Homo sapiens: one gene and its partners. The protein of the gene in region 2 purifies or fractionates together with the protein of the main gene of each other region. This does not show direct contact. Each region holds a gene or a part of one and is shown on either strand. Other genes may lie near its edges.

The links. Proteins that work in one complex are often made in the same cells at the same time.
Region 1: the proteins of ZNF704 (region 2) and SAP30L purify together in Homo sapiens (co-immunoprecipitation; 3 studies listed by BioGRID and IntAct, with this or other methods). This does not show direct contact.
Region 3: the proteins of ZNF704 (region 2) and DCP1B purify together in Homo sapiens (affinity purification with mass spectrometry; 2 studies listed by BioGRID and IntAct, with this or other methods). This does not show direct contact.
Region 4: the proteins of ZNF704 (region 2) and ARID4B purify together in Homo sapiens (co-immunoprecipitation; 3 studies listed by BioGRID and IntAct, with this or other methods). This does not show direct contact.

The regions. Positions count from the first base shown.
Region 1 is NC_000005.10:154,448,997-154,452,496, reverse strand, and holds part of SAP30L (histone deacetylase complex subunit SAP30L), read right to left. Parts: intron 1,407-3,500; coding exon 1,284-1,406; intron 42-1,283; coding exon of another isoform or gene 24-41; exon of another isoform or gene 1-23.
Region 2 is NC_000008.11:80,686,282-80,689,781, forward strand, and holds part of ZNF704 (zinc finger protein 704), read right to left. Parts: intron 1,178-3,500; coding exon 945-1,177; intron 1-944.
Region 3 is NC_000012.12:1,945,553-1,949,005, reverse strand, and holds the end of DCP1B (mRNA-decapping enzyme 1B), read left to right. Parts: intron 1-2,719; coding exon 2,720-2,800; 3' UTR 2,801-2,953; downstream 2,954-3,453. UniProt on the Homo sapiens protein: May play a role in the degradation of mRNAs, both in normal mRNA turnover and in nonsense-mediated mRNA decay. May remove the 7-methyl guanine cap structure from mRNA molecules, yielding a 5'-phosphorylated mRNA fragment and 7m-GDP.
Region 4 is NC_000001.11:235,220,180-235,223,679, reverse strand, and holds part of ARID4B (AT-rich interactive domain-containing protein 4B), read left to right. Parts: intron 1-419; coding exon 420-514; intron 515-2,017; coding exon 2,018-2,115; intron 2,116-3,134; coding exon 3,135-3,378; intron 3,379-3,500. UniProt on the Homo sapiens protein: Acts as a transcriptional repressor. May function in the assembly and/or enzymatic activity of the Sin3A corepressor complex or in mediating interactions between the complex and other regulatory complexes.

The DNA.
Region 1 (3,500 bases), on a different chromosome or scaffold from region 2:
CCTCTAAAAGAGCTGTTCTTGCTTCAGGCAGGTGGAGAGCACTTAAAAACAAAATGAATGATCAATATGAGGGGCCAAAGTCCTTCATTCTTTTTCAAAACATTCCTCAAAACCTTTTTTTTTTTTTTTTTGGTGAAAACCACTTAGAAATCGAATACGTCCATTTCTTTGTAAAATAACAATAACGTTAAAGGCAAAAGCAAGATTCTGTAAACCAACATTGGAAAAGGGGACACAGGGAGGGGCAGAGGGAAAGGGCCAGATTTTCAACGGTTTCCTCCACATCTGCAGACAAAGGCCCGCCTACTCTTTCTATTCCTACACAGTCATTTTCACTCTGAGTGCTAACAGGCGGTTGCCTTATGAAATATTCATGTGTCAAATATTCAATGTACACTATAAACGGTTCTTCTCTTGCTGAGTCTTGAGTGAAAACAATTTAGTAGAAAGAAAATCCAATATTCCTTCCTGAAGCCTCACTTAATAGACACGGGCACCTGAAGGGAAGGCAGCCTTCCAGTTTGAGAAGCCTAGGTCTCATGGTCTAGCGCAGTGGTTCTCAACACAGGACGATTTTGTCTTGTAAAGGAGGTGTGGCAATGTCTGGAGACACGTTTTGATTGTCATGACTCAGGGTGGTGATGGGTAGAATCTCACGAGGGGATGCTGCTGAGGCATGCTGTTAAATATCCTACAATGCAGAGGACAGTCCCCACAACAAAAATTAGCTGACCCCAAATGTCAACAGTGCTAGAGTTGAGAAAACCGGGTCCAGTTTAGTCAACTTTGAAATGGATCCTTGGGAACAGCCTGGACTAGATGTCAAGAAATCAGTGAGAGAAAATCAGAGCTGGTATGAACTGATGACTTACACCTTCATTTTTTGGGGAAAAGACTTCTCCCAAACCATTATACACTCTCTAAAGGCATAAACAAGGTTTAAAAAAAAGTGACACTGTGGTTGTATTTACGCATTCGTCAGGGGCGTCTTGCAGAAAAGCAGTGTGGTCTACTGGAAAGGGCCCTAGACTAGAGCCTCCAAACTATATACATGACCTCGGCTCTCTGTGCCTGTCTGTAAAATGATGGGGCAGTCTGACCAGTGGGTGTCCAAGCTTTTAGCTCTCAGATTCCATATTACTATAATTCACTTTTCAAATAATCCACAGCAAAACAAAAGGACTAAAATTACTTCTTAACACAAAAAGCAGACCAGGCCAGAGGTGAGAATCAGATTAGAATCCATTCTTCCAGCTTCCGCAACTGGTTTCTTTGACCTTTACCTCAGGAATGTCAGTGTCGTGCTCGGGAGAATCTCCGCCATCGTCACTTGTCTTCCTCTTCCTTTTATTTCGGACACTCTGGATGAAATTTTTGTGAAAATCACAGATATATAGGTGCCTTACCTGATGGAGACAAAAATCAAAGTCAGAGTTGGCCAATTCCTTGGAGACAGCAATAGGTATCTGTCGAATTGCGGGGCTTCCTTCCATTGCAGGGCATTGGAGAGATAGATGGAAGACAAGATGTAGGCCATCATTCCCAGAAGCTCACTACTGAGTTGCAGAACACAAAGAGAATGCTAACATCACACTTGGCAGCGTATCATACACCAAACTTCCAGTGAATGGTGAAGACAGTAAATGGTACAGATTCAGCAAAGGAAGAGATCCCTGCAACAGAGATGCTCAGGGTGAAGGGCCCTGACTAAAAGGGAGGACTTTAGGCAGACAGGAAGCATTCCAGATGGGTAGGAGTGCCAAGACTTTAGAGTTTCCAATGGAGGATGACAGAAAGAGTGAGGAGGCCCAGGGTACAGTGTCAGTTGGGTGATGATGGCTGCCCATGTAGGAGCATAATGAAAAAGTGAGGCATCAGGGGGGTGGGCATGAGAACAGCTTAGACTTTCCTTCCGACAAGACAGAGTCCCTCAAGGAAGCAGGAAGTGATGTGACATTTTTAGAAGACCTGTAGGAGTCATAAACTTATAGTCGACTGGAATGTACTGTCCTGGGGAGGAGGAAAGCAGGACACAAGGGACTGTTGCAACGGTATTTGGGACACTCTATTTTTACAATTACAATAGCTACTATTGTAGGATAATAACTCTTTGAAAAACTTTGTTTCTATGTGTCAATTTATAATTCTTGCATTATCTCACATCTGATCCACAAAGAAAAGTGGAAAAAGATGTGGAAGTTCTTACAAGGTAGAACCACATACAAGAAGGTGGATACTACAGATTTTCTAATACAGGCTGGAGGCACACTGGTAAGTGAAGGTGGCAGCAACAGCTAAGACATGAAGAATCCTCCAAGGCTGGCTGGAGGAACCACTGAAAAACTTTACAGAAACTGAATGCCCAGCAAATGACTTGGGGTTGTTGATACTGAAACAGCTGTTGCACAAATGTTCTGCAGAGACTTCTGAATTTGAGTTTATTCCTTAAATCCTTAAAGATAAAAGTAAGCTGGCAGGAAATCCGCATCAATTAATTCAGACCTTTTCATGGAGAAAATAATGAAAACTGTTTATTTATTTATTCAGATGAATGATCACTTTCATGTGGCTGGATTAGTGAGTCATAAGTACTTTTAAGTTTATACTGTGATGGTGTCTTGCAGACAGGAGGTACTCGAAAAATGTTGATGTACCAATATAGGAAGTCTCCTATATCTAAAAGTGGCTTAAGGCTAATGAAAGCCACCACTTAACATGGTTACAAACTGGGATAGCTTTGTCAGATTCAACTCTGTCAAAGGACTTTCAAACACAGCACATGCCACTGTCCCAAAGAATCCCACCTAGCTGATGTATATACTACTGGACATGCTTTTCTCCAGGAAGAAAGCACAACAAAGCACACTCTGCATCCCTGAGAGGAAGCTAGCCCTCCATGTTAGCTAGACTGGCGAGTCCACTCAGATCAACTGCTCCTCAAGTTCACAGTAACAAACTTCATAGGAGAACAGGGAGAATAGGTGGCTTCCTAAAGCTTTGGCTGGGAGATTTCAGATCAGGACAATAGAATAACGGAATCCTAGCTGTAAGAGAACTTAGCAATCACTAGTGCAATCCCATTGACCCCAATCCGTTTTCTAAATGGGTAAAATGAAGCCATCCAGAGTGAGGAAATGACCTGGCCAAGGTCACCCAGGCCTTCTGCCCCCCCAGTACATGTCTTTTCCTACTCCAGCATTTTCCTTTATACTATTCTCAACTTCCACTTTTCTCCAGGAAAAAAAAAGCAGAAATATGTCAACTGGAGGTATATTAGTATTTTAACAGATCACAGAACACTGCCAAAGTCTATATAAAATGAGTTAAACAGCCTGAATTGAATTTCTGGTGTTGTTATTTAAAAAGGTTCTCTGCTAGACTCTCTTACAAGATAAATAATCATTTTCTCCTTAACCATTTTCAAGTACATACTGGTTTTCAGAAATTTCAGAGCTCAGTGGCCTTTGGGAGTGGGGTTGGGGCAGGAGGGTGGTAGCAAA
Region 2 (3,500 bases):
TGCAAAACTTACCATATAGGACTGCTGGGAGGATTAAACAAATGTGTAATCAATTAATTTGCTAAATCAATTAATTAGATGTCTTTTTTTTCTTCTACTCCTTTTTGTTTTGTTTAAAGCAGCAGGGTCTCACTCTGTTGCCCAGACTGGAGTGCAGTGGCCAGATCATAGCTCACTGCAGTCTTGAACTCTTGGACTAAAGCGATCCTCCCACCTCAGCCTCCTGAGTAGATGAGACTACAGGTGCATGCCACTACACTGAGCTAATTTTTTTTTTATTTAATTTTTTTTTGTAGAGACAGGGTCTTGCTATGTTGCACAGGCTGGTCTCCAACTCCTGGTCTCAAGCAATCTTCCTGCCTCTGTCTCCCAAAGCAGTGGGACTACAGGTGTGAGCCACTGTGCCTGGCCCTTTTTCACTTTTTATTTAGTTAATATATAATCTCTAGGATGTAAGAATGGAAGTTTGTTTATATCTCAGCTTTTATGTATATTTCACAGATGACTGCATAAAAATGAGATACAAAATATTCTTCCCAATAACCCTTCAGGGCTGATTGAGAAAAGAGAAAAATATATTAATTATATTTTACATATGAAAAAAATAAGTCCCACGAAGAGAGCGAGTTCATACCGAAGCAAGCCTGAGGTCCAATTTTCTAACTTACAAATACTGGTAAGTCCCAGGTCAGCAATTTATAACCAGAGGATGGATGGGATACGTGTGTATATACCTTCAGGAAACTTACCAGTATTTGTCATTTTTAAATTATCACCATAACAATTTCTATTCAAACTTCAAGAACATTAAAGAGGAACGTAAGCTGCTTCTTTCCACAGAAAGGGGGTGTAGGTCCAAGGTTAAGCTCACACCGGCCCTTCAGAGGGGACAGAAAGCACCTTCAGGAAACTGAATGCAGAAGACCGCGTGGCTGACCACCAACCTTTCTTTTCCTGGGAATGGGCTCGTCGAAGAGCAGGTTGCTGGCCTCCGCCTCGTCGATGCCGTCGTCTGGCTGCGCGGGGCTGCGGAAGGGCTTGAAGCTGTCAGCCGAGAGCGGCGGCGACGGCGTGGACGGGTTGGACTGGTCGCTGGGGGCGCTCCAGCTCCAGTAGCCGCTGCTGCTGGTGCTGGAAGGCACGCAGCCGCCCTCCTTCCAGGATCCGCTGAGGCTCTCTGCATGCACACAAACACAGTCAGTGCCAGGACCCCTGCGTGCCCGGGCATGGTTCAGTGGGGAAATGGGAGCCTTGGTTCTACACCAGTGAAACCACCCCAGCCCTCTCAATCATCTGCAACAGCTGGGTATGTAAGTTTTTGTTCTATTTATACGCCCCCTCCCAAAAGCCACATTGTAGTTTATAAACATTTAATTATTTTAACCTCATGATAATAGGTTTTTCTAAGAGTTTTCTGATGTGTTTTTGTATTGTGCAACACAAATTCCTTGGGATCATAGTGGGGATTATATGAAAAAAAAGATTTTCTTGTTCACTAAGTTTGGGGAGCTCTGGGTTTATCGACTACAGTATTTCTAAGAAAGAAATATCATTTGCAGTATTCTCCTGAATGGTTTGGTCACAGAGTTCCCTCTCACCCCAACCCCTCCGATTTCAACATTTTTTTAAAAAGGGATTTCTTAGCTGAGGGCAGTGGCTCACTTCTCTTATCCTAGCATTTTGAGAGGCTGAGGTAGGAGGATCGCTTGAGGCCAGGAATTCGAGGCCAGCCTGGGTTACATAGTGAGACCCTGTCTGTACAGAAAAAATGAAATGATTAGCCCGGCGTGGTGGCATGCACCTATAGTCCCAGCTACTCTGGAGGCTGAGGAGGGAGGATTACTTGAGCCCAGGGGTTTGAGGCTGCAGTGAGCTATGACTGGGTCACTGCACTCTAGCCTGGGTGAAAGAGCGAGATCCTGTTTCAGAAAAAAAGTTGGGGGGTGGGGGGTTCTTATAGGACTGTTATTCTTAGAATACATTTATAGGAAGTTAGTCTAACACTTAAGAATCTAAGAGAAATAATTTCTGGATAGTTATCTAAAGCCCCTTTCCATTCTGCTTATTACAACAAATAGTAATGCCTTACATTTTGTGAGTGTTTTACATTTTACAAAGCTTATTCGCACAGTCTCAAGCATTCTCACAACATCTGTCCTTCAGAATAAGGATTATTATCCCAGTTTTATAGATGAGGACCCTGAGGCAGCAGGAAGCAAAGTGACTTGCTACATGACTGGTAAGTATCCCTCATGGGCCCAGGCCACCAGGAAGAGGTTGGACCTATTTCTTCAGTGCATGCAGTCCCTGGGCTGTAAACAACCTCCATTCTCTCTGGCAAAGCTGGGATAGGATAAGAATTTATTGGCAATAATTACTCTAAGATTGCTATTGGCTATTACCTTCCCATTTGTGGTGGAAAGCATTATGAAATGTTTGCTAATGTGGAGAGATTTCTGCCCAGTTAGAATGTCTTCTGCCAGCCTGGCCTATATGGCGAAACCCCGTCTCTACTAAAAATACAAAAATTAGCTGGACATGGTGGTGCGTGCCTGTAATCCCAGCTACTGGGGGAGCTGAGGCAGGAGGATCACTTGAACTTGGGAGGCGGAGGTTGCAGTGAGCTGACATGGTGCCACTGCACTCCAGCCTGGGCAACAGAGTGAGACTCTGTCTCAAAAAAAAAAAAAAAAAAAAAAGTCTTCTGGGTGCTCTTTTAATCACTGAAGATTTGCTTTACCTTTCAAGATGCACGACCTTAATTAGCATTTATATAAATTTTACTTTTTTTTGGATAATTTCTCCTCCATATTTATGTGCATTTTGAATATATTAAAACTATGTTCTAACTACGAGGAAAAAACATCCCCAAATGCCTCATTAAAAAAATACTGTTAATGTCTGTGTAATTAGTAATGGAGTGAAGACAAATGGTAGATTATCATTCATGGGGAGATTTCATAACTACCTTTACCTATTTATGGATTTCTACCATATTCCTCAACTATGTCAAGCAAAAAGTTAAGTTAGAGGAGTGAAGCTTTAAGTTGAAATAGGAGAAACTACCCATCTCATTACAGCTAGGTTCTTTTAGAATGAAATGGTCATTTATGCAGTCTCATGCTTTGCCAGCATCAACAAAACCAAACTAGCATCTCACTCCCTGCAGTCTACACAGAGACTGATACGCTCACCAGACTAGATTTGCCTATTGTAAATAAGAAAGCTCCATTTAGTACAACAGGAGTTCAAGAAGAGCATAATATAAGGCTTGATGATTTTACTTAGTGTGAAAAACTCCCTTGGCAGGCCCGGGTGGCTTACAAATATACTGTAGTATGCATTTGTAAAATAAAATAAAGCTAATGGTGCTAGATGTATAATCATGTTAAGTATGAGGCACTGAATTTATTTTGAAAACCAACTATTATTACAGTGTGGTTACATGGCTTCATGTCAATGCCAAAAGTGAATTTGCTTACTGATTTGTGAATGACATT
Region 3 (3,453 bases), on a different chromosome or scaffold from region 2:
CAAGGCCTGCTTAGCTTCCGTGAGAATAACAGGTGTGTGTAACAACTCATCCTGACCCCAGCGGCTTCTGTGCTCAGTTAGCTAGGTGTTATTTATAATACCAAGTGTGGCTTGGGTGTCTCAGCTCTTCAAGGATTTTGTAATTTGAAGGACTGTCTAAGGCCTCCAAGCTGTCACCTGTCAGAAGAGAAGGAAGCATATGCTGGGGATTAAGCAGTCCCTGAGAGGACCCTGGGTGCTGGAGGCCCAGACAGAAAACTCACCATTGGGAGGTAGAGGTGGGAGCAGTCCTGGGCAAGGGGCCATCTGTTGAGTGGGGAAGAGGCCACTGAGCGAGTGGAAAACAGGGAGGGAAGCAAATAATGGCCATGGCTGCTACAGGTATGTTTTACAAGTCATTTTGAAACCTGCTCATTAGGACGGGATGGAGTGACAGGACTCCTTGTGAGCTGCTAGCCTCACTTGCCTATGAAATTATGAAATAATAATGAGTGCTATAATAGCTAACACTCCACAGAGCTGGCGCCGGGCCCTATTTTCAGTGCTACACACAAGCATATAACTCATTCACTCCTTACATAACAACCCTGTTATTTTTCCCATTCTACAGACAAGGAAACTGAGGCTGAGCAACTGGCCTGAGGCACGGAGCTCGTACATAAGCAGGGCTGGGATGCACCCAGCCTGGCCCCCGAGTGCCACTTCCCACGTACTCTCCCGTGGGCCACGTTCACCACATGAATGTTGGCAGGGACCAGCCTCGGGAGAACATTCAGCACAGGTGCCCTAGCAAAGCACACCCAAGAAATCAACGGCAGTCCTTGAAAAGTGGAACATTTGTAGCCAGACAGACTTCAGACACCCCAGTTAACATATTTAGGTGTCTTTTTGGTAGATAATCTTTAAGAAAACTTGTGTGGTACTTTGCTTAAGCATCAGACGGCCTTTAGAGAGCAGGCCAGCCCTTCTGCGGTTGTCTTATCCTACTTAAAAAGACAGTGGTCTCAATTAGTACAACATTTTTAAAAAGGTTCCATGTTGGCCGGGCACAGTGGCTGCTCACGCCTGTAATCCCAGCACTTTGGGAAGCCAAGGTGGGAGCATTGCTTGAGGCCAGGAGTTCAAGACCAGCCTGAGCAACATAGCGAGACTACAAAAGAAGGAAACATGTTTGAGGAAGAATGAAAGGAATGGGGCTAGAAGTCAGCAGAAGCATAATAACAATCAGAGATAAATAAGGTCAACAGCAAATGATTGAGCCCTACTAATTCATAAGTAAATATCAGGATAAAAATATTTGCCACCTTTTAAAGCTATTCATAGTAAGCTCAGGAGGAATTAGACATCTGTGAACCTCTTTACTTTGAGCCAGTTTCTTAAGTTGTAATTTAAAAGATCCATATGTTTTCTGGCTGATTCCCTTCACATTGTCTTGAGACTCTACTCCAGAGTAGTGGCTGAACATGGCGGATTAGAAATTACATTCCCCTGCCCTCCACTCTGCGTGCATTTTACTTCTTCCCGTGTACCACACCTCATATTCCCAGTCACTCAAGCAGTCTGTTTTTAGTTTCTGCCTCTTGTTAGGACACAATCTCATGCAGAGGAACTTTGTGACTACTTTGCAGGAAAAAGAGGGATAACATCACTCTCTTCATTGCATGAGAATGATGCTAAATCTGTGTGGGGTGCCAAGAGGGAATGAAGGGGGAATGTGAAGTGTGGGTGAATTACTAACACTGTAAAGAATTTGGGTGGGAGGGAGAAGTCTCTAGAATTAAAACATGAGGAAAACCACTGATTAGACCGTGATTCTCACTCCTTAGCCAGGCAAAAGAGCCCAGAGATTACCAGTCTTACTCCTGCCCACTTGCCAAGGCTAGAAACTTTCCATAACTTATGGGAAGACTTATATTAGCTTTGATGAAGTACTGATGAAGCATATTGCAAGTAAAATCCTAAGTAATGCCCAAAACAAAGCAGACACATTGTAGGTGACTTGGAGGGCCTTTAAGAACCACAGTGGCTCATGCCTGTAATCCAACACTTGGGGAGGCCAAAGTGGGAGGCTCACTTGAGCCCAGGAGTTCAAGACCACCCTGAGCAACATAGTGAGACCCTGTCTTAACAAAAAACTTAAAAGCCAGGCATGGTAGCACGCACCTGTAGCCCTAGCTACTCTGGAGGCTGAGGTGGGAGGATCGCTTGAACCCATGAGGTTGAGGCTGCAGTGAGCTATGATGGCACTACTGCACTTTAGCTTGGGTGACAGAGTGAGACCCAGTCTCAAAAACCCAAAAAACAAGAAACAAAAAAACACACCACAGCAATCTCTTAACCAAACTTTGAGACCACTGACTTGGATCATGTCCTCCTAACTCCTCTGTCTGCTGGGGCTTCATGTCTTTTCATGCAGCAGACCCAGGCTGTTCTTGAGTAAACCTTGCTCCATGCTGCCATGTGTCTGGGCTGCCCATCTGTGCTGCATGTAATGAGCTCTTGCTGCTGTGCATACTGACCATGGAAAACCATCAGCTCTGTCCGGCCTTGCCGTCAACCCCACTTAACATTCACACATGCAATTAAAAACCACCAGCTGTTAGACAGGGAGAGATGAGTGTCTCAGTATCCAAAGGCCAGTTCAGCTCTAAGACAGAGGAAGCCTTTTGTGTCTGCCAACCAAGTAACATTCTCTTGGGTCTTTCGATTTGTTTTCCAGAATGATGACAACTTCTTAAATATAATCTATGAAGCCTATCTCTTCAGCATGACTCAAGCAGCCATGAAAAAGACTATGTGACAGCAAGGCCTTTTAAAACTGATTTTCAAGGTCCTTCTAGAACTCCGGCACAAGGTTCTTTCATGTTGAGTGTTGTTTCCTTCAATGTTTCTGCCTTTTTTAAAAAAAAAGTATGTGTAATATGAAGTAAAATGTTTCAGACTTTTTTTTATACTCAAGTGTTTTTTAATTATTATTATACTTTAAGTTCTGGGGTACATGTACAGAACATGCAGGTTTGTTACATAGGTATACACATGCCATGGTGGTTTGCTGCACCCATCAACCCATCATCTACATTAGTATTTCTCCTAACGCGCTTCCTCCCCTAGTCCCCCACCCCGCGACAGACCCCAGTGTGTGATGTTCCCCTCCCTATGTCCGTGTGTTCTCATTGTTCAATTCCCACCTGTGAGTGAGAACATGTGGTGTTTGGTTTTCTGTTACTTTGTTAGTTTGCTGAGAATGATGGTTTCCAGCTTCATCCATGCCCCTGCAAAGGACAAGAACTCATTCTTTTTTATGGCTGCATAGTATTCCCTGGGTGTATATATGCCGTATTTTCTTTATCCAGTCTATCATTAATGGACATTTGGGTTGGTTCCAAGTCTTTGCTATTGTGAATAGTGCTGCAATAAACATACGTGTGCATGTGTCTTGATAGTGGAATGATA
Region 4 (3,500 bases), on a different chromosome or scaffold from region 2:
TTTACTATAGAATCATTATTTAGAGTAGTAGTAAATTGGTAAAATACAAAGAAAATGCCATAAAAGTAACTCTTATTGGGAAGCAGTTATCTAGTATTTCTTCCCTCAGCAGAGGGAAGAAAGTAGAATGAAAATAAAAGGTTTCAAGAATCTGGTTATGGTTTTTAAAATTTAAAAAATTTTAAAGTGGCCATGGGCTTATTTATGTGTAGATACCATGTCTTTGATTAACAAGATAATTTCTCATATATATATATACATATATATGTATATATACACACACATATATATACGTGTATATATATATATACGTGTATATATATATAAAATACTATAAATACTTGTATTATTTGAATCTTTTGAAATTTTAAATTAAAAATGTAGTGTGGATCTAATATAGTTTGTGTTTTCTGTAACAGGTACACCTATTAACAAACGACCTGTACTTGGATATCGAAATTTGAATCTCTTTAAGTTATTCAGACTTGTACACAAACTTGGAGGATTTGATAATGTGAGTGTTGTAGTCAAACTGAAACATCTTTTTCATGTAACATGTTTTCTCAGGTATCTGCCATCTCTGAAATTGTTTTTCTAAACAACAAAACAAAGTTTTTCAGTAAAAACCTAAGAAGAAGATAAAGTGGAAAGTACAGCTAGCCTCCTCAGACAAAATTTAAATTTTAAAGATTTTTTAGGCCAGGCATGGTGGCTCATGCCTGCAACCCCAACACTTTGGGAGGCTGAGGCGGGTAGATCACTTTAGGCCAGGAGTTCAAGAACAGCCTGGCCAACATAGCAAAACCCCATCTCTACAAAGAATACAAAAATCAGCCAGACGTGGTGACGCACGCTTGTAATCCCAGCTACATGGCAGGCTGAGGCACGAGAATCGCTTGAACCCAGGAGACAGAGATTACAGTGAACCAAGATTGCACCGCTGGACTGCATTCCAGCCTGCGTGACAGAATGAGACTCTGTCTCAAAAAAAAAAAAAAAAAGATTTTTTTTCATATCAGCTTTCTGATTACTGTTAAATTGGTCAATCTTTCATAAACCTTCTTTTTTTATCTGAGTCACAGCACAGCCATATTGGTGGAAATCCTTCCTGTGTCTCTTTTTCATTAGACAGTATGCTCCTTAAGAGCAGGGATCTGTCTTAATATTCTGTATATTCTTAATCCCTTTCAGAATATAAAGGGATTAAAGCAGGAAATGTTTGTTGAACTGATCTGAAGAAATTATTTTAAGGTTGACGTGATGTACGATACTTATCCAATTGAGAATATTCTATGGAATAAAATACTTTACAAATTTCTGCAGAACTGCATTTATTAGCCTGTATATTTTATGCGAAATAATAAATCCTTTAAAAATGTTTGTCTCCATTTCTTTGTTAAAAATTTTGATTTAAGAGCCTGAATATTTTTCCATTTTCCATAACTGGGTTTATTTAAAAGTCAAATGGGGCCAGTTATGGTGACTCATGCCTGTAATCTCAGCACTTTGGGAGGCTAAGGCCAGGGGATTGCTGGAGCCCAGGACTTTGAGACCCGCCTGGGCAACATGGTGAGACTCCATCTCCACAAAAAAAATTTTTTAATTAGCCAGGTGTGGTGGTGTGCATCTATAGTCCCAGCTACTTGGGTTGTTGAGTCAGGAAGATCCCTTGAGCCCGGAAGTTCAGGGCTGCAGTGAGCTGTGTTTGTGCCACTGTTGCTGCACTTTAGCCTAGGCAATAGAATAAGATCCTGTCTCCAAAAAAAAAAAAAAAAAAAAAAAAAAAAAAAAAATAGTCAAATGACTTAATATTTCAACATTTATAATTTTCTGATATTTGTTAGAGTACTAAAACCTTTATTTTTAAACCAAATTTAGAATTTATCAAGTTTTTAAAAATTCTTTTGAGTCTAGGACCAATAAATATAAAAATATACTCATATATACTGTGTCTATCAAAATGTTATTATATTAACACCTTTTAATTTGAGAGTTTTTGTTTCACTTTGTCCATTAGATTGAAAGTGGAGCTGTTTGGAAACAAGTCTACCAAGATCTTGGAATCCCTGTCTTAAATTCAGCTGCAGGATACAATGTTAAATGTGCTTATAAAAAGTAAGTTAGTATAATTGATATGATTATCTTCAGTATTTTTACCTAGAAAGCAGGATGAAATTTACCTTATAACTGAGGTTAATTATTTCTTTAAAGAAATCAGAACATTTTACTAGAGTAGTCATTCTATGATAGTATTTTCTAAAGTGTATTCTATGATACTAGATCTATGAGAAATTCTGTGAAGAAAGTTTTTGTGGCTAAGTACATTTGTCAAGTACTTCATAGAGGTTAAAAAGCTAATATTCTGAAGTCAAGTAAATCCACATTTGAATCCTAGTTCTGCCAATTATTAACTGTTTATGCCCTAGGGCCAGTTATTTATTCTCCTAAGCCTCAGTTTCTTCATTTGTAAAATGGAATGCTTGGCCAGGCACGGTGGCTCATGCCTGTAACTTCAGCACTTTGGGAGGCCGAGGCGGGCAGATCACTTGAGGTCAGGAGTTCAAGACCAGCCTGGCCAGCATGGCGAAACCTTGTCTCCACTAAAAATACAAAAATTACCTGAGCATAGTGGCTAACGCCTGTAGTCCCAGCTACTCAGGAGGCTGAGGCAGGAGAATTGCTTGAACCCAGGAGGCGGAGGTTATAGTGAGCTGAGATTGCGCCACTGCACTTCAGCCTGGGCAACAGAGTAAGGCTGTCTCAAAAAAACAAAAAAAAACAAAAAAAAACAAAAAAAGGATGCTGCTGTGTGCCCCAGGGTTACTGTAGTGACTAAATGAGATTTACTAAGGAGTCCAGCCTCACACATAAGAAATGTGCAAAAAATAGATGCTATTACTAATACTTTTAATAGCTGTTATTGTTATGACTCTGAGCACAGTGTTTTAAATGAATTTTTTGACAAAATTTTTTTTTTGCATTGAAAAGATTAGAAAGAACTAGAATAAATTAGAATGTTAATATGGCTCAATATCTGAGAGTTTAGACAAAAGAAATGAATACACATTAAAAATAACTCTATAGTTATATTTTGAAATGTTTTCACCAAATGTAATTTCTCTTCATGTTTCCAGATACTTATATGGTTTTGAGGAGTACTGTAGATCAGCCAACATTGAATTTCAGATGGCATTGCCAGAGAAAGTTGTTAACAAGCAATGTAAGGAGTGTGAAAATGTAAAAGAAATAAAAGTTAAGGAGGAAAATGAAACAGAGATCAAAGAAATAAAGATGGAGGAGGAGAGGAATATAATACCAAGAGAAGAAAAGCCTATTGAGGATGAAATTGAAAGAAAAGAAAATATTAAGCCCTCTCTGGTAAATCAGATATTGTTAATTGTCTTTTGCTTTCTTTGGTATATTTTCCATATCCTCTATAAAGTTCCAAAATCAATATATTGTATAATATTATTCTTTATTATTTGTTTATTTTCTTCATT